3 separate regions of the Homo sapiens genome follow, and regions 1 and 2 are each linked to region 3. The links come from fine-mapping of genetic effects on gene expression. A gene starts in region 3. Each other region holds a variant in brackets. All regions are shown on one strand. Distances are between the middles of the regions. Region 1 overlaps LINC02577 (long intergenic non-protein coding RNA 2577). Region 2 has its middle 75 kb from the start of PIK3CG. Region 3 holds the start of PIK3CG (phosphatidylinositol-4,5-bisphosphate 3-kinase catalytic subunit gamma).

What was found. PIP is the estimated chance that this variant, and not a neighbour inherited with it, causes the effect. A credible set is the group of variants that fine-mapping cannot tell apart.
Region 1: its variant is the best candidate, but not a certain one, in a credible set for the expression of PIK3CG in whole blood (TOPMed, PIP 0.58).
Region 2: its variant is the best candidate, but not a certain one, in a credible set for the expression of PIK3CG in whole blood (TOPMed, PIP 0.77).

The regions. Positions count from the first base shown.
Region 1 is chr7:106,825,663-106,832,770 of GRCh38, forward strand. LINC02577 (long intergenic non-protein coding RNA 2577) reads left to right here. Exons shown (of 5, transcript NR_170304.1): 3 at 4,400-4,548; 4 at 6,331-6,527. Among named protein-coding and RNA genes, the nearest start is that of PIK3CG, 36 kb to the right of the region's middle. The variant C/T (reference allele first, on the strand shown) is at 2,709.
Region 2 is chr7:106,936,424-106,943,531 of GRCh38, forward strand. No RefSeq gene overlaps it. Among named protein-coding and RNA genes, the nearest start is that of PIK3CG, 75 kb to the left of the region's middle. The variant G/A (reference allele first, on the strand shown) is at 3,406.
Region 3 is chr7:106,861,161-106,867,998 of GRCh38, forward strand. PIK3CG (phosphatidylinositol-4,5-bisphosphate 3-kinase catalytic subunit gamma) reads left to right here and starts at 4,122. Exons shown (of 11, transcript NM_001282426.2): 1 at 4,122-4,266; 2 at 6,390-6,838. The coding sequence starts at 6,402. RefSeq lists a silencer at 1,404-1,698 and an enhancer at 4,194-4,293.

The sequences.
Region 1 (7,108 bases), 35 kb before region 3:
GACGTGTGTGGGTGCCAAGTTGACAAGCAGTGGACTTGTGATAGTTAATTTTAGGTGTCAACTTGACTGGATTCAGGAATACCTGGCGAACTGGTAAAGCTTTATTTCTGGGTGTGTCTATGAGGTGTTTCCAGAGGAGATTGGTGTGTAAGTCAGTGGAGTGAGTGGGAAAGATCCACCTTTGATGTGGCCAGGCACCATCCAATCAGCTGGGGACCTGGATAGAACAACAACAAAAAAAACGGCAAAGGAAAGATGATTTTCAATCTCTTTCTCTCCTGGAGCTAGGATATTCTCCTTCTGCCCATAGACTTTAGAACTCCATGTTCTTCAGCCTGTGGATTCCAGGACTTACACCAGTGGCCTCCTGGGTTCTTAGGACTTTGGGCTTGGACTGGAAATTACACCACTGGTTTCTGGACTTTTGGACTTGGACTGAACCATGCTATCACCATTCCATGGTCTCCACCAGCTTGCAGGTGGCCTGCAGTGGGACTTCTCAGCCTCTATAATAGCATGAGCCAATTCCCCCAGTAACTCCCTGTCTTATATCTATAGCTATAGCTATACCATATTGGTTCTGTTGCTCTGGACAACCCTGACTAATAAATACACTGGCAGATATAGAAACAGATAATGACAGCATTTTTGAATACAGGTTAAAATAATTTTCTGAAATCAACTCTAATAAAAAGGACAACCACTTATGAAACATTTCCTGCCATATGGACCTATATAGGGAGAAGGTATTTTCCAGTAATGCCTTTATGATTATAATTAACATTTAAAGAAATGAAGAATGACAGCTTTTATAAGCAGTAGCTGGAATTAGCTGTAGTGAGAAAAAGTGAAGTCCTCCATTTTTACACTTTCTAGTCTCAAGTGTCTTGTTTCCACAACTTCATCCCTCTCTTATTATTTTAGTAAAATCCTTCCCTGTGTCACCCTCAACACCAAAAAATATATTAATTAAAAGCATTCTCATTAAAAATCTGTCGTGTCTTTTTATCTGCATGCATTTCTCGTTAAGCCCTGTACGGTCTTATCTATAACAATAAAATTTCATCATCACAGGATGGCTGTCTCTGGTATTAGTTCTGATGAACTGGTTTTAGAGTCTAAGTCTCAAGAGACTTTGTTCACAGAGCAGGTTTTGCTTATGTGGACTTAGGTGGACACCCATGGCCACCATAGTCACTTTTGCTGGCAACGCCCAAGATAATAAAATCTTACTATTCTACTAAATCCCTCAGCTCATCTGTAACTCCACCCTGGCTGTTCCTTTACACTTGAGGGGCCTCAATTGGACTTCCAGGGTATCATGGATTTGGTCCACAGCTAAACATATATCCTCAACCACTTAGTCCTAAATTTTGTGGCAAAATATCTATGGTGATAAACAAACATTGGGAACTTAATATAGTCACAGAGAGTACATACTCTATTTTATGCAGACAACCATGGACATGTGCAATAAATGATGTTAGTTGTGTGTATGTGAACAGAGTTTAGTGTTATCAAAACTGCTGAAAAGCTAATTCGGCACCTTCAGCGACGTGTCTATTTAACATTCTGCTGCATAGTAATTATGCATAAATGGGAAGCAGTTTTCATAAGTTGTGGTGATTACTTTTACCATGCCAAGTTTTATAGTGTTTTTAGTGTGTGTGGCCGGGGGAGATTTAATAATGTCTGTAAATAATGTCGATGTCAACAGAGTCCCCTAACATCATATAAATCCAAACAAAGGCACCAGTCCAAAGACTGATCCACCAATTTCTGGGACCCCCTGGGCAGTAGTATTCACCTGCTGGCACTGGAATCAGATTGTGTGTTTTCTTCAGTGTGCCTCTATCTTCTGGGTTAATTATCCCCCATGCTACACATACCAATGCTTCCTCATCCTTATATAAAAGAACATTGTACATCAATTAACTTTTTATTGTTCTCCTTTCAAAAAGCTGGGCCCCATGCTTTAAAGGCCCCTAATGTTACCAAAACTAGAAAAGAAATGTATCAGAGAACACATGGTCACCTTTGTTCCTGGGAACCAGGTGTTCAGAACTGACACAATATCACAATATAACCCGTGATCCTAAACATCTGTTCTCATGACTAACACCATTCAGGACCCAGCAAAACACTTCTTTGCATGTCTTGCACTATGTATGCCCTATGATCTCAAAATGAAAGTTGATTCCAGCTGAAGGACTTGAAGGTTTCTGGGATGTATCTGCTGACTTCTGAGCTGTTGCTTTGAGACTGGGGAGATGTGACAGATGGAAACATCTAAGTAAAATACAAATGAATTAATTTTTCAAATCTTTCTTCTCAGCTTGAATGCACCCAGATTCTTACGCTAACTAAGTAGCATTTCCCAATAATGTCAAAGCTTCTCTTAGCACTCCAATTCCAGAGGGATTAGTTTGGTTCTAGGGTACTCACAAATTAATATGATATTCACAATAGTTCCATATGACCCCTTAGGAATATATATTTAGCAATATTAACCAATTCATATTACTACAAAATTATATATTTGTAGGTTTGGATATAACATTCATGAAACTGATACCAATTTTCACATTGCTACTTGATACTGGATATTGCTTTAAGAGATGGAAGAATCACAACATATGCAATAGTAGTTTGTATAATATTGGTATATAATAGTGTGTGGATTTTTGACCCTAAATCCAAAAATGTTT[C/T]AAAGGAGTCACTGACTGCAAAGAAATTTTAATAATATGTTAAATAATTTATTTCACTTTTGTTTTTATTCTACATGAGTAATAGAACAGCAGCTCTCAACGTGTGGTCTAAAAGTTCCTGGGAGTGCCAAAACCCTTTCAGGGGGCCCACAACAACAAATTCTGTTTTCATAATAATACCAAGGTATTATTTGTATTTTTCACTGTGTTAACATTTGTATAGATGGTAAAAAGTACTGATGGATATAATTGATGGTGCCTTAGCACACATCAAGCCAGTGGCACCAAATTTACTAGTAATCACTGTATTCTTACTACTGCATACCACAATTTTTTAAAAGCTGAATTCTCATAAGAATATTCTTAATGAAGCAAAAAGTACTTCTGCTGCATAACAAAGTATTATCGTTATCTTGAAAAGAAGCATTTTTGTAATTAATATTATACTTCCAAGCAAAAATCGAATCTTAAAAAACCTTGTGTCACTGTGAACTTGATACCTTCCCAATACTTCAAGATTCTTCTGATGAGATCGATGGTGATAGTAAGAAATGTGATTTTTTTGGGATATTGTATAATAAAATGTGTCAACATTTGGAAAATTGGCATAACTCAGTGGACCCATATTTTCTAAATGACCATTGCATGATGTTACAAAATCATGCATGAATAAAAAAATCCATTCAAAGTGCAAGACAGACCAATCAATTTTAATATAACAGATTATGAAAGTTCATTGATGTAGTTTCAGATTTGATATTGTTACAGTAGGTAGTCAGACATAAGCAGCACCAAGGAAAGATAATCCCCCAATAGATAAAAACACCTGAAACTGGTGATCCGCAGCTTCCCAATAAGATCTCAGGAGTCGGGTATATGGGCTCAAGCATGCACATTAATGGGCAAAAGGACAGAGTTCAACTGGTATATAACCTCCCTCTAAAAGCATTTGAATGGTAAGGGAAAAACGCCACAAGTGAGCATGTGCACAATTTCAGTAAACACACTGGGCCTGCAGCCCCTCCCAAGTGCTAGCAGAACACTGCACATGCGGACAGCCCACCCCAAGGGAAGAATCAGGGAAAGAAGGGATGCAACACCCACTCACCCCCAACCAAAGCATGCCAAGGTATAAAACCCCAAGTCAAAGGTCAAACTGCGCACTTGAATCTCTCAAGTCGCCCGCATGGCCCTCTTCCAATTGTACTTTACTTTCGTTCCTGCTCTAAAACTTTTTACTAAACTTTTTCTCCTGCTCTAAAACTGTCAGGCCTCTGAGCCCAAGCTAAGCCATCACAACCCCTGTGACTTGCATGTATACATCCAGATGGTCTGGAGCAACTGGAGAACCACAAAAGAAGTGAAACAGTCAGTTCCTGCCTTAACTGATGACATTCCACCATTGTGATTTGTTCCTGCCCCACCCTAACTAATCAATCGACCTCGTGACATTCCTCCCCTGGACAATGTGTCTCATGATCTCCCCACCCTGCCCCTTGAGACCCCCGCCCCTGCCCATAAGAGATAACCACCTTTAACTGTAATTTTCCACTACCTACCCAAATCCTATAGAACTGCCCCACCCCTATCTCCCTTTGCTGACTCCTTTTTCGGACTCAGCCCACCTGCACCCAAGTGAATAAAGAGCCTCGTTGCTCACACAAAGCCTGTTTGGTGGTCTCCTCACACAGACGCATGTAACATTTGGTGCTGAAACCCAAGACAGGGGACTCCTTCAGAAGACCAGCCCCCTGTCCTCACCCTCAGTCCGGGAGGAGATCCACCTACGACCTCGGGTCCTCAGACCAGCCCAAGGAACATCTCACCAATTTCAAATTGGGTAAGTGACCTCTTCACTCTCTTCTCCAGCCTCTCTTGCTACCCTTCAATCTCCCTATCCTTCCAACTCCAGTTCTCTTTCCTCTCTAGTAGAGGCAAAGGAGACACATTTTATCCACGAACTCAAAAATTCCGATGTCGGTCATGGATTTGGGAAGACAGTCTTCCCTTGGTGTCTGATCATAGCGGGGACGCCTGCCTTGATCATTCACCCACACTCCATTGGTGGCAGGTCAATTGCAGGGACACCTGCTTTGGCTGCTCACCCACATTACAGCCGAGGACTCAGTCAGGGATGCCTACTAGAAGCCTGGCAGCTGCCTACCTCCATTTCTCCGTGTCTCTACCTTCCTCTTTAAACTTACCTTCCCCACTATGGGCAAGCTTCTGCCATCCATTCCTCCCTCTTCCCCCTTAGCCTGTGTTCTTAAAAACCTAAAACCCCTTCAACTAACACCTGACCTAAAACCTAAACATCTTATATTCTTCTGTAATACCGCTGGGCCCCAATACAAACTTGACAATAGTTCCAAGTGGTCAGAGGATGGTAATTTTTATTTGTCTATCCTACAAGACCTAGATAATTTTTGTCAAAAATTAGGCAAATGGTCTGAGGTGCCTTACGTCCAGGCCTTTTTTACACTTTGCTCTCTCCCTAGTCTCTGCTCCCAATGTGACTTATCCCAGATTTTCCTTCTTTCTCTCCCGTCCACTCCTTCGGTCTCCACCCCAAGCTCAGAGTCCTCTGAATCCTCCTTTTCCACTGACCCCTCTGACCTCTCTCCTCCTCCCCCGGCCGCTCCTCGCCGGGCTGAATCATGTCCCAATTCTTCCACAGCCTCCACTCCCCCACACTATAACCCTTCTATTACCTCCTCTCCTCACACCTGGTCTGGCTTACAGTTTCGTTCCGTGACTAGCTCTCTTCCACCTGACCAACAATTTCCTCTTAGAGAGGTGGCTGGAGCTGAAGGCATAGTCAGGGTACATGTGCCTTTTTCGGACCTCTTCCAGATCAGTCAGCATTTAGGCTCTTTCTCATCAGACCCCACTAAATATATACAGGAATTCCAATATTTAACTCAGTCCTACAATTTAATCTAGAGTGACTTAAATGTCATCCTGACTTCTACCCTCTCCCCAGATGAGTGAGAGAGAGTTTATAACCTAGGCCAATCTCACGCTGACGACTGCCGGCATCATGAGCCAGGCCTCCAAGAAGGCACCAGGGCAGTTCCCCAGGAGGGTCCCCAGTGGGGATACCAAACAGGCTCCCAAGATATAGCTAGGCGAGATTACATGGTCTCTTGCCTAGTTGAGGGGCTCAAAAAGGCAGCATACAAAGCTGTTAATTATGAAAAACTTAAAGAAACCACCCAAGGTAAGGACAAGAACCCAGCTCAGTTCATGGCCCGCTTGGGGGCTACCCTTAGACACTTTACAGTCCTGGACCCAGACATTAGGAAAAAACTCCAAAAACTAGATTCCGGCCCTCAAACCCCAGAACAACATTTAATTAACCTCACCTTCAAGGTGATTAACAACAGAGAAGAGGCAGCCAAGCGACAACATATTTCAAAGCTGCAACTGCTTGCCTCCACCATAAGAAAAATCCCAGCCACACCCATGGTACACAAAAACCTCAGAACAACAAAACCGCAACCTCCAGGCACTCCTTCAAAACCTCCTTGTGGACCTTGCTTCAAATGCCAGAAGCCTGGCCACTGGGCCTCGGAATGCCCACAGCCCGGGATTCCTCCTAAGCCTTGTCCTGTCTGTGCAGGACCCCACTGGAAGTCGGACCATCCAACTTGGATTACAGCTGCTCCTAGACCTACTGGAGCAAAAAGCTAAGGCTCCTGGCTGATTCCTTCCCAGATCTCCTCGGCTTAGTGGCTAAAGACTGACGCTGCCAAATCATCTCGGAAGCCCCCTGGACCATCACGGATGCCGAGCTTCGGATAACTCCTACAGTGGAGGGTAAGTCCATCCCCTGTTTAATAGATACGGGGTCTACCCACTCCACATTACCTTCTTTTCAAGGGCCCGTTTCTCTTGCCCTCATAACTGTTGTGGGTATTGACGGCCAAGCTTCAAAACCCCTTAAAACTCCCCCACTCTGGTGCCAACTTGGACGACATTCTTTTATGCACTCTTTTTTAGTTATCCCCACCTGCCCAATTCCCTTATTAGGCAGAGACATTTTCACCAAATTATCTGCTTCCCTGACTATTCCTGGGCTACAGCCACATCTCATTGCTGCACTTTTACCCAACTCTTTCACATCCTCCCCTGGTATCTCCCCAACTTAATCCACAAGTATGGGATACCTCTACTCCTACCTTGGTGACCAATCATGCACCCCTTATCATCTCATTAAAACCTAATCAACATTACCCCACTCAACGCCAATATCTCATTCCACAATAGGCTTTAAAAGGGTTAAAGCCTGTTATCACCCACCTGTTACAACATGGCCTCTTAAAGCCTACAAATTCTCCTTACAACTCCCCTATCCTACCCATCCAGAAACTGGACAAGTCTTATAGGTTGGTTCAGGA
Region 2 (7,108 bases), 75 kb after region 3:
AAAGAGAAAGGTATTGCTCAATATCAACAGCATCTTTTTCAAAAATGGTATGATAGGCCGGATGGGATGCGGTGGTTCACACCTGTAATCCCAGCACTTTGAGAGGCCAAGGTGGGTGGATCAACTGACGTCAGGAGTTCGAGACCAGCTTGGCCAACATGGTGAAACTCTGTCTCTACTAAAAATACAAACACTAACCAGGTATGGTGATGCACACCTGTAGCCCTGGCTATTCAGGAGGCTGAGACAGGAGAACTGCTTGAACCTGGGAGGTGGAGGTTGCAGTGAGCCAAGATCATGCCACTGCACTCCAGCCTGGATGACAGAGCAGGACTCTATCTCAAAAAAAAAAGTATGATATTGATTACTATTTTACAATATTGCCAAACCCAAAAGGTCTTTTTCTTCTGTCCACGGGTGCTTTTATGTGCCTTAAATTGAAGGCATTAACTTCTTTTTGACTGATGCCTTTAGCACTTTGGTACCAGCATATTTTTAAATACCACAGACTTTTTTTTTTTTTTGAGACAGAGTCTCACTCTGTCGCCAGGCTGGTGTGCAGTGGCGTGATCTCAGCTCACTGCAACCTCCGCCTCCCCAGTTCAAGGATTCTCCTGCCCCAGCCTCCCGAGTAGCTGGGACTACAGGAGCCCACCACCACGCCCATCTAATTTTTGTATTTTTAGTAGAGATGGGGTTTCACCATGTTGGCCAGGATGGTCTCAATCTCTTGACCTCGTGATCCGCCCACCTTGGCCTCCCAGAGTGCTGGGATTACAGGCATGAGTCACTGCAGCCAGCCTTTAAATACCACAGCTTTCCTACAGTAACCAAAACAGCATGGTACTGGTACCAAAACAGAGATATAGACCAATGGAACAGAACAGAGCCCTCAGAAATAATACCACACATCTACAACCATCTGATCTTTGACAAACCTGACAAAAACAAGCAATGGGGAAAGGATTCCCTATTTAATAAATGATGCTGGGATAACTGGCTAGCCATATGTAGAAAACTGAAACTAGACCCCTTCTTTACCCCTTATACAAAAATTAATTCAAGATGGATTAAAGACTTACATGTTAGACCTAAAACCATAAAAACCCTAGAAGAAAACCTAGCTATTACCATTCAGGACATAGGCATGGGTAAGGACTTCATGTCTAAAACACCAAAAGCAATGGCAACAAAAGCCAAAATTGACAAATGGAATTTAATTAAGCTAAAGAGCTTCTGCACAGCAAAAGAAACTACCAGCAGAGTGAACAGGCAACCTATAGATTGGGAGAAAATTTTTGCAATCTTTCCATCTGACAAAGGGCTAATATCCAGAATCTACAAAGAACTTAAACAAATTTACAAGAAAAAAATCAAACAACCCCATCAAAAACTGGGCGAAGGATATGAACAGACGCTTCTCAAAAGAAGACATTTATGCAGCCAACAGACACATGAAGAAATGCTCATCATCACTAGCCATCAGAGAAATGCAAATCAAAACCACAATGAGATACCATCTCACACCAGTTAGAATGGCGATCATTAAAAAGTCAGGAAACAACAGGTGCTGGAGAGGATGTGGAGAAAGAGGAACACTTTTACACTGTTGGTGGGACTGTAAGCTAGTTCAACCATTGTGGAAGACAGTGTGGCAATTCCTCAAGGATCTGGAACTAGAAATACCATTTGACCCAGCCATCCCATTACTGGGTGTATACCCAAAGGATTATAAATCATGCTGCTATAAAGACACATGACCACGTATGTTTATTGCAGCACTATTCACAATAGCAAAGACTTGGAACCAACCCAAATGTTCATCGATGATAGACTGGGTTAAGAATATGTGCACATATATACCATGAAATACTATGCAGCCATAAAAAAGGATGAGTTCATCATGTCCTTTGTAGGGACACGGATGAAGCTGGAAACCATCATTCTCAGTAAACTATCGCAAGGACAAAAAACCAAACACCGCATGTTCTCACTCATAGGTGAGAATTGAACAATGAGAACACTTGGACACAGGAAGGGGAACATCACACACCGGGGTCTGTCATGGGGTCGGGGGAGTGGGGAGGGATAGCATTAGGATATACACCTAATGTAAATGACGAGTTAATGGGTGCAGCACACCAACATGGCACGTGTGTACATATGTAACAAACCTGCATGTTGTACACATGTACCCTAGAACTTAAAGTATAGTAAATAAATAAATACCACAGCCTTCTAAAAATCTGAAACCAGTCACTGGAGGGTGTGAAGAAAAGGGCTACAAAGATAGCTTTCCCTGGGTAAGAGAAGCTCTCTAGGAAGATAGAAAGAAGAGCAGACTGGAGGAGAAACACTAATATGTGATTTTAAATTTTAAAATTTAAATTTAGATCGGGGTTCTATCAGTTTTTCTCTCTTCTACCCAGCATATTTAGATGGTAGCCTGCTCTCAGGCCGAACTTTTGATTAGATTGTCTCGAAAGCTCTTCTAGGATGTTCTGGCTGAGATATCACTCTATCTAGAAAAGTTCAATAATGGAAAATGGAATAATTGAATTATTTTAATGCAATAAGAGCTCAGCACACTAAGATAGGCTTTTCCCCACTTATATTTAATTTGCGCTTTTTTCATATTTCCATGCTGACGGGATTCTAGTTTCCTTAAGATGGTGAAATTTGTGTTTTTAAATGAAATTTCATTTGGGCACAATGATTACTGAATATTATATGCAGTACTGTGGGGATTAAGAAGTGATTCAGATACAGCTCCCAAAGATCTTAGTCTAATGAGCGGATAAAGGGCACAAATGACTTTGTTTTTTGGTGTTTTTGTTTGTTTGGCTGATTGGTTTGTTGATTGGGTTGTTTATCTGTTTGTTTGTTTTAGAGTCTCACTCTGTCACCCAGGCTGGAGTGCCATGGTGCGGTGCTGCTATCGTGGCTCACTGCAGCCTTGACTTCCTGGGCTCAAGCAATCCTTCCACCTCAGCCTCCCAAGTAGCTGGGACTACAGGCACACGTCACCAGGCCCAGCTAATTTTTGGTACTTTTGTAGAAATAGGGTTTCGCCATGTTGTCCAGGTTGGTCTTAAACTACTGGGCTCAAGCAACCTGCCCACCTCAGTCTCCCAGAGTGCCGGGATTACAGGTGTGAGCTACCACGCCGGGCTACAAATAACTTTGCTATATCACAGTCTGTGACAAATATCCTCCATTAGCACTGGTATTTAGTTGATGATTTCCCAAAGCTTTTTTTCATTTTTAATATTCCCAGTAGCTCCTAAGAATTTGAACAAAATGCAATTATCAAGCAATCATCCCTATACGAGGTCTTCTACTCACTGTTACAGATCATTTCTTCCTGTTCACTGACCCAGTTAAAACAATATTGAAGCCCTAAAT[G/A]TCTTTTCAATGGAGATTTGTGTCCTCCAAAAGAAAGAACAATGAAAAGCCAGAAAAGCAGAGGAAGCTTGGAAAATACACCAGAGAGTCTCTTGGAAAATTATTTAATTCTTTATGATCTTAAAACATCTGGGTGTTTTGGCCGGGCACGGTGGCTCACGCCTGTAATCCCAGCCACTTTGGGAGGCCAAGGCGGGTAGATCACGAGGTCAAGAGATCAAGACCATCCTGGCTAACACAGTGAAACCCCGTCTCTACTAAAATTACAAAAAATTAGCCGGGTGTGGTGGTGGGCACCTGTAGTCCCAGCTACTTGGGAGGCTGAGGCAAGAGAATGGCGTGAACCCGGGAGGTGGAGCTTGCAGTGAGCCTAGATCGCGCCACTACACTCCAGCCTAGACAACAGAGTGAGACTCCGTCTCAAAAAAAAAAAAAAAAAAAAAAATCTGGGTGTTTTTAGATTCCCTCAACAGTTGGATTTTTCTTTAAATACCTCTCCCAAAAACACACGTAATATCAACACCCTAAAATCCACCAATGTTATACATAAAGAGTTGAGACACTCACAGATAAATGCAAGATTCCAACTTCCTTTCTGCACCACAGGATTAATGAAGTGTTCTCTTAAGGCAAACAATGAGGTTTCTCTGTGTCAATTACAGAAAAACATTTTCTTGTAGAACACAATTGTATATTATTCTAAATAAATGCCTTAATCCTCTAGCTGTGAATGCCATCTATTTTCAACAACGTCAGATCCATTATATTTTCCCACTTTCCTCTAAAGCTTCAGCTACTTACCCTAACATCATACTCATTTTACTTTTTTTTTTTTTTTGAGACAGGGTCTCACTGTATTGCCCAGACTGGAGTGCAGTGGCACAATCACGGTTTACTGCAGCCTCAACCTCCTGGGCTCAGGAGATCCTCTCACCTTGGCCTCCCAAGTAGCTAGAACTACAGGTACAAGCCACTACACCCAGCTAATTTTTTTTATTTTTTGTAGAGATAGGTTTCATCATGTTGCCCAGGCTGGTCTCAAACTCCGGAACTCAAGTGATTTGCCCACCTCAGCCTCCCAAAGTGCTGGTATTACAGGCATGAGCTACTGCATCTGGCCCCCACTTTTTATTAACCCTGAAAGTTTAGTCTTTGATAGGCCAACTAGATATAGCTCACTGATCAGTTTGACTGTCCAGAAAATCTAATGACCCTTTTAAATATTTTTTAGTTAGCAAACAGGGGGAAATATTTGCAACACAAATTAAAGTCTAGGGACTAATTTACATAAAATACAAACAGCAATTAAAAATAGTAAGTGGAAGGTCAGGCGCAGTGGCTCACGCCTGTAATCCCAGCACTTTGGGAGGCTGAGGCAGGTGGATCACAAGGTCAGGAGCTCAAGACCAGCCTAGCCAAGATGGTGAAACCCCTTCTCTACTAAAAATACAAAAAATTAGCCAGGCGTGGTGGCAGGTGTCTGTAATCCCAGCTACTCAGGAGGCTGACGCATGAAAATCGCTTGAACCTAGGAGGCAGAGGTTGCAGTGAGCCGAGATCATACCACTGCACTCCAGCCTGGGCAACAGAGTGAGCCTCTGTCTAAAAAAAAAAAAAAAAAAAGTAAGTGGCCGGGCGTGGTGGCTCACACTGGTAATCCCAGCAGTTTGGGAGGCTGAGATGGGTGGATCACCTGAGGTCAGGAGTTTGAGACCAGCCTGGCCAACATGGTAAAATGCTGTCTCTACTAAAAATACAAAAAATTAGCTGGGCACGGTGGTGGTGCACGCCTGTAATCCCAGCTGCTCAGGAGGCTGAGGCAGGAGAATCACGTGAACCCAGGAGGCAGAGGTTAGAGTGAGCCGAAATTGCACCACTGCACTCCAGCCTGGGCGACAAAACAAGACTCCGTCTCAAAAAAAAAAAAAAAAAAAAAATCAGTAAGAAAAGACTTGACCCTTCAACGAGAAAAATGGAAAAAAGACATATAAATGACTAACAAATATGAGAAATATTCTATTTCTTTACTATTAAATAAATGTAAATTTTAAAGAACAATTAAATATCACTTTTCAACTACCAGATTAACTAACACTTAAATCACAATCATCAATGTTGCTGAGGATATGGGATAAACAGTTTGATTTACTGTAGGTGGGAACATAGATTGGTGCAGTGGCAATTTGGTTATATATACATATATATACAAATCCATATATATGTGTATGTGTGTACACATTTATGTGTGTGTTCGTATACTTTTTTTTTTTTTTAAGATAGAGTCTTGCTCTGTTGCCAGGCTGGAGTGCAGTGGTATGATCTCAGCTCACTGCAACCTCCGCCTCCTGGGTTCAAGCGATTCTCATGCCTCAGCCTCCAGAGTAGCTGGGACTACAGGTGCCCACCACCACACCCAGCTAATTTTTGTATTATTAGTAGAGATGGGGTTTCACCACGTCAATCAGGATGGTCTCCATCTCCTGACCTCGTGATCCACCTGCCTCGGCCTCCCAAAGTGCTGGGATTACAGGCATGAGCCACCACGCCTGGCCCACATTTTTTTTTTTTTTGAGATAGAGTCTTGCTCTGTTGCCCAGGCTGGAGTGCAGTGGCACAATCTCAGCTCACTGCAAGCTCCGCCTCCTGGGTTCACACCATTCTCCTGGCTCAGCCTCCCCAGTAGCCCAGTAGCTGGGACTACAGGCACCCGCCACCTTGCCTGGCTAATTTTTTGTATTTTTAGTAGAGATGGGGTTTCACCATGTTAGCCAGGATAGTCTCAATCTCCTGACTTCGTGATCCACCTGCCTCGGACTCCCAAAGTGCTGGGATTACAGGCGTGAGCCACCGCGCCCAGCCCCTATCCCACATTTTTTTTTAAGAGACAGGGTAGTATTCTGTCTCTTATACAGAGCTACAATGCAGTGATGCAATCATAGCTCATGGCTGCCTCAAACTCATGGGCTCAAGTGATATTCCACCTCAACCAAGTAGCTAGGACTACAGGCATGCACCACCATTCCCAATTAATTTTTAAAAAATGTTCCTGTAGAGATGGGATCTTGCAGTGTTGTTCAGGCTCAGGCTGGTCTAATTTCCTGGCCTCAAGCAATCCTCCTGCCTTGGCCTCCCAAAGTGCTGGGATTACAGGTGTGAGCCACCATCATCGGTCTGATCATGTATTTTCAATTAGGAAGGTACATTCCCTTTTACCTAACAATTTTATTTGTAGATACTTAGTCAAAAATGCATGACTATGTACAAAGTTGTTTTTTGTTGTTGTTTTGTTTTTCTTTTTGGAGATGGAGTCTCGCTCTGTTGCCCAGGCTGGAGTGCAGTGGCACGATCTTGGCTCATTGCAGCCTCCATCTCCCAGGTTCAAGCAATTCTCCTGTCTCAGCCTCTGAGTAGCTGGGATTACAGGCATCTGTCACCATGCCCGGCTAATTTTTGTATTTTTTGTAGAGGCAGGGTTTCATCATGTTGACCAGGCTGGCCTCAAACTGCTGACCTCAGGTGATCCACCCACCTCAGCCTCCCAAAGTGCTGGGACTACAGGCGTAAGCCACCGCACCCAGCCTGTATAAAGTTGTTAACTGAAACATTGCTCATCAGAACAAAATACTGGAAACAGTCTAAATGCCCCTTAATAAGGCACTAGTTAAATAAAATCCATACCCTAGAATACTATATAGCCATTAAT
Region 3 (6,838 bases):
CAGGTGGATAACTTGAGGTCAGAAGTTCAAGACCAGGCTGGCCAATGTGGTGAAACCCAGTCTATACTAAAAATACAAAAATTAGTTGGGCATGGTGGCGCATGCCTATAATCCCAGCTACTCGGGAGGCTGAGGCAGGAGAATCACTTGAACCTGGCAAGTGGAGGTTACAGTGAGTTGAGATCACACCACCGCACTCCAGCCTGGGAGACAGAGCTAGACTCTGTCTCAAAAATAAAAAATAAAATAAAAATAAAGTATCACGCAAAGATTTTGGATTTTTAAAAACCAATTTATAGAAAAATCTTTTCCAGAAATTTGTGAAGTGCTTACTACTATGTATTGTCAAAGTTTAACTAAACAAGGAAACAGAAAAATGTGCTCAATGGTCAGTTTCTGATACTAAGAATGGAGAACAAAGTGGAAGGTCCCATAGGGACCTAGATCTGGCTGTAGGTCCATGGAGTTGTGTTGACTGTGACTGATTTCCCATAGCTTCTTTTCTCAGAACCTGAAGTGGCTCCCCTCCACCCACATGGCATAATAATAGCCTACATTCCTAATGGCATCAAGACTGTGGTACAGTCTCCTACAATCCTCCCTAATCCCATTTGTCCTTACAGTCAGAGCCCTGACATTTGGTTCTGGTGTCCACCACTCTCTAGCCAGCCAGAACTCAGGGGACAAATTCTGATTAGCTTAAACCATTCACATAATTCTATCCCCTTTCCTATTGATTGGCTGAGGTATCAATGCGCCCTTGCCACAATTCTGGCCAGAGACATAAGGGGACCCAGAAGACCTTTGGGAAAGTCTTCCTCTCTCTGAAAAAGAAACACACAAGATGGCATGGACTCTTCTTCCTCTGTGTGTCGTGTTGGTGTTTGACACCTGGAATTCTGTACCTTCTAGAGTCATCTAACATAATATCTTACATAGTACGGTGAGATAAGTTTTTGTTCCATTGAAAACTGAAGATTTATAACAACTTCCTGTGAAATATGTAGGGTGGTTGTTATCATTTGGTAGATTAGGAAGCCAAAAGAAATGAAGGGGCATATATGAGGCCTAAAGAATGTGCAGAAATAAACCTAGGTCTCATGAATGTGTGTGTTTCTACAATACCAGGATGCTTCTCTTAAATCTTACCAAATACAGACCAAAAAATATCAGGCACAGCTTCATAAAGGTTTGCCTTTGTGCTCGGACAACAAAGCAAGGTATGAAGGTGAACTAAACTGTCAGATTAGATTAAAATGCCTTTTTGCATTTTTATCACAATGTATAAATCATCTGAAGCTGAGCTAAAAAAAAATATGACAAGATGATCATGTTTTTTCAAGATGAAAGATTCCCTCGAGTCTGAGTGACATAGCTACTCCAACAGTAAATAACCAATAACAGAGTTCCCAGCCAGTATGCCCAAAGCGGTGAGGTCCTTGGGGATGCACCCGTTGTCTCACGCTTTGAGGAGCTTCCTCAGTTCACCCCAGTGTGCCATACACATGTCACCACTATTTACATGTGGCAACACATGAAATACGTATGGGAAGCACACACTTGTCTGGCCATGTCTCTCCCTGTCTCTCACACTGCTATCTTTCTCAGACTCTCCATTTCAGTGAACTGATCTGTTCACTGTCCCACAGATGCCTTCTGGCTTGAGGACTTGCCCCTGTGATTCCTCTTGCCTTGAATCCTGGACCTTCCCCTGCACATTTAAAACAAAAATTTTCAAATCTCACCCAAAGTGAACTCCTCCAGTAAACTGTTGGCTTGCATAATGAAAGTTACATCACACAATTAAACCGCTTGGACTGCATATGCTAACGCATTGCACATGTTATTCTTTCCTCTGCATGTTCTGTCTCTCCAAGTAGACCATAAATAATCTCTCTGAAGGCTGTTGGAAAGAGCCTTCCTCAAAACAAATAATTTTTAATGTCTATTGATCACTGATACTTCCTACTGTGTTCTTATTTTCTAAACTGTTCTATCTTGTCATTGCTGTGACCACTGATATGATATAGAAGGTCAGAGCCTTTGATTGTGTTTTTTTTCCCAACCAAAATGATTTCTGTGTCCACAGATTCACAGAAGGGAAAAATATTATTAAAATGGGATATTAATGAGGACTGAAGGTCTTCTAAATATTCTGGGGATATAAAATATTCTTACTCGTAAAGGATGCCTCTACACGGAGGAAGTATCCACAGAGGAAGGAAATCTTTGCCATTACTTCTTACTGGGAACATTTACTACAGATAGTCAAATTTTAGTGGCTATATTAAGATTTGGGGAAGAGCAGGGTACTTTTAATCTCAAGCCACCAATAAACCTGACATATTTGCCAGTTTAGTCATAAAACAGAAAATCCTTTGCCTAATCAAACTTAGCTTAATAGTTCCTTCAGAAGCAGGCAGGGCCAAGAGGCTGAGTCTCGTGTTTCTGGAATAATGTGGCATGTGTGTGTGTATGTGCAGTGCCAGATTGGGACTTGGCCCCCTGGAAGTGACTGAGCCAGGACAGGGAAGGGATCTATTGAATGGTCTGGGGAACAGGGCTGGCCAAGCTCATGGTCCCTCTGAGGTCAGCCCTCCCACCCTCAAACCTCCTCCCACTCCACCCACCCCCAGGAACCCTCCCACACACTCTGGGTAAAACACAGCTTGGCAAGCTCTCACATCATGGCTTGGTGGCTACAGTGTGTTGATCTTCCCTCAGGACCAACCAAGAAAGCTAGCCTTGGTGCTTCTAAAGCTGCCAGCCTCCTAAGGGAGTATTCCTATATAGGAATATACTTTGAGAAGCTGATAAGACCCCTCTAAATATTTGGGAGGCAGCCTTTGAATTAAATTATTTGCCTGCTGATGTCAACTATTAGAGTGCTATTTAAAAGTTAAAACCCAAGAGGCATATGTAAAAGGAAATAAGTCAAATCAATCATTTATCTCAATATCAGAGTAATTCAGAGGAACTCTTAATTACATACCTCCAAGAGACTTGTGAGGTCAACTCCATTCTATCTGCTGCCCTTGAAGCTCAGCTGGAGTCCCTCAACACCCCGATTGGAGGATGAACTCTAGCATAGGGAATTCTGAGATGGAGGGAGGGGGCGCTGGTTCAGGATGCTTGGAGGTTCTAGAAAGAACTGAGGTCACCTGGAAGATACAACGCTACTCTAAAAATGATTCAGGATGGCTTTTCTATGCATTCTCTACTCCCATAGGAATCAGGGGCCACCTCCCAGGATGGAATCTGCCTGATGCTGTAACAGTGTTCAGCTCCCCAATTTCCCCATGATAACAGGCAACCTCCTTCTGTTTTGTCTACAGTTAATTAATCAGTCATTGCTGACAGTAAGGCTCCATCCTCAACACAGGATATTTTCTGAAGCATTAATTTTTGTTTCAATAGTTGATCCTTGTTTGGAATATAATGTGTTACAATGTAGTGGTACTTAGTATTAAAATCAAAATACCTTTTTATTCATCTTTCAATTTTAATACTTTTAGCATTTCAACCATTATTTGAAGGGTTACTTACTGCAGTATGTCACATTTATATACACACATGCACATGCTGCAGTGCTTTCAGTTTGAGCCAGTGATATTTTAGGCCCCAAATGCTCTGAAAAAATAGAGAAAGCTCTCACCAAGCTAAGGAAGTGAGCTTGCAGACCATGCCTTTAAAAATTTTCAGCTTGATAACTTAGTCCTCAAGATGACTAGGTTTCTCTTCCCCCACCCCTCAGTTAGCATGTGCGAACAAGGATTCTTTTGAATTCCCAGGAGGGGAATGAGTTTAATTTGACTGGTAAAAGTCTTCCTAATAGGATACCTAATACTGTGGCTCTTAGAACTAGCTACAAAGATATTTCATATGTTTATGTCTCATAATGGGTAATTTTGGTTTGGATTTATGTCATTTTGTCTCAGTATCACAATTTTTGAAAAATTAGTTCAAAGAGAAAAAAAAAAGAAAAGAAAAACCATGGTAAACATTGCTCAGTCTCATACTCCTACCCTCTCTATGCTAAAACAGGAAATGCATTTCTGACACTTTTAAAATGAGCAATCACACGTATAATCAACTTGGTTAAAACTTCCTTCCTGGTAACTGCAACACTTCCTCTGCATCTGGATATGAAGGGAGCCCCAGAAAAGCGGAAGAATTTAGACGCACACTGGGTAGGTTTGAATTTGTTTTGTTTTCAAAAATTAAACAAATGATCCTTCAGCATCATCGCCTCCGCTGCTTTATCAGGTATTGCTTCCTTCTATTTTTTGCTCTTTGTGGGGTCTGACTCGGAATAGTGGCACTTCCTTCTCGGCTAGATTATCTGAAACTGTTGTCGGTTCTTGAGATGATACTACCACCGAATGTCTGTGTTTCATTGTCTAGTCCAACCTGTATTGTGGATATCTACAACGTTCCGGCAATAGTTTTGCAGGTGCATCACATTTTTGTTTTTGTTTTGGGAGGAAAAGGGAGGGCACGGCAGCCAGGCTTCATATTCCTACAAGTGCATGCTTCAAGATTACTGTACTTACAGTGTTTCCAACATCTTCTCATAAAAGGGGAAAGCTTCATAGCCTCAACCATGAAGGAAACCAGTGAGTATTAGTCAGCCTGTTTTCCTCTGCATCTTATAAGATCGTTTGGTATCACTGAGGCAGAAGTTATTGCTGTGTATTTATATGCTGCCTAAATTTGGACATGTTTTATTTCAAGTTAGTGTCAATATCAATGTATCTTACAGTTCTCTTCTTTGTTAGTTATTCTATAATGTAGCAAAAGACCAAAATGAATGTTTTAAGCCACAAGAGACAGTTCTTTGGGACAGTTGGTTTCACTTACTAAGTATAACTTCATATTTTAAGAGAGGGAATATTGGTTTTAAAAGTTAAGCCAAGATTTGAACATAAGTTTGGATCAAATGAAATTTGTCTTTCTTATCTTCTTATCAAGCTCTCCTTTTTGGTATACATCAAATGCTCCACTATTTCTTAAGGAAATAATGTAGTTTTAAGTCTAACATTAGTTATTTAAGAGAGTAAACGATATTTTCTGAAACATTAATTTTTTGTTTCAATAATTGATTCGTTTAGAATATAATGTATTACAATGTAGTGATACTAAACATTGAAAGCAAAATACCTAATCTTTCAGTGTTAATACCTTTCAAATTTCAATTATTATTTGAAGGATTTCCTATTGCAGTATGTCCTATTTATACATAAGTGCTTTGTGAAGGGTAGGTACTTACTGAATTTTGTGGAAAGAGTGAGTAGGTTAATGAGAATAAATTTGTGAATTTGTGTTACAAAAATGAAAATATTAGAGCAAAAAAGAAGTTAAATGATTGGGGGTCTTAACAGAAGGTCACTGGAGTCCAGAAATCCTGCCTTCCATCCTGTAGCTCCTCCATTATTAAGTAGAGACAGATCAAATGAATTTTAATTAATTAATTAAACAATGTTAAAATTACCTAAATGTTCCTATTGGGAGAGTACAGCCTTGGGTGACTCTTCTAAGATACTGCCCTAATATAGCAGTGACAGCCAGAATGCTGACAAATTCCATGATTCAAAATTTTACATATCTGCAAATGGTTTTGACTGTAACTTTACTAATTCCGATATGTTTTAGCTTTACAAATGAAATGACTTGCTTTCCTAATTAGAAAGAAAAAATGAAACCAAGAGGCAGGAAATTTATTAGGGAGTAGATCCTAGGTCCAGGCAGTTTGAAAACAGGCAACGTGAAGCAAGGCTGGGTGAGGTGTCTGGGTTCCAAGAAGTGTGAGACTTAACAAAGAGGAAGTAAGTTAAAGGCCTGTTTTCAAAGTGAGATTTTTTGGCATCTCGTGTTGCACCTTGTAAACTGGGACTTGAACCTTAACTGTACTATTTTAGTAATCTATATGTTTCAGTATGTTTAAGAACAATGTCCATTCTGAGCCATTATAATGTGTCATGCGCTGTGCTGGATGAGTGTTTTACCTACCTCTTTAAAATTTTCAAAGTATACAAAAGTAGAACGACCAATAAGCCCCCATATACCTGTCACCCATATTGAACAAGTATTACTTTATTTAACTCTCCCTCTGGGGCATTCATTACTAACCAGTTTGAGAGATGAGAAACAGGCTCAGAGATTAAGCAGCCCAAATCACCCAGAAAGTAAGTGGCTGGGCCAGGACTCACCGGCCCGACTCCAAAGCCCACGCTCTGAAGGGCTGTAGTGCTTCCAGTTTAAAATACTTGGTCCCTCTGGGTCCCTGTGCACATGTACGCCGCCTATACCTCCTCTTCCCTCATCTCACCAGAAAATATAAGGGGAAAGTGCCTTTCTTGTGACAAATCCCTGTGTCCCTCCGCTCCCAGGTCGCATAGGGCATGGAGCTGGAGAACTATAAACAGCCCGTGGTGCTGAGAGAGGACAACTGCCGAAGGCGCCGGAGGATGAAGCCGCGCAGTGCTGCGGCCAGCCTGTCCTCCATGGAGCTCATCCCCATCGAGTTCGTGCTGCCCACCAGCCAGCGCAAATGCAAGAGCCCCGAAACGGCGCTGCTGCACGTGGCCGGCCACGGCAACGTGGAGCAGATGAAGGCCCAGGTGTGGCTGCGAGCGCTGGAGACCAGCGTGGCGGCGGACTTCTACCACCGGCTGGGACCGCATCACTTCCTCCTGCTCTATCAGAAGAAGGGGCAGTGGTACGAGATCTACGACAAGTACCAGGTGGTGCAGACTCTGGACTGCCTGCGCTACTGGAAGGCCACGCACCGGAGCCCGGGCCAGATCCACCTGGTGCAGCGGCACCCGCCCTCCGAGGA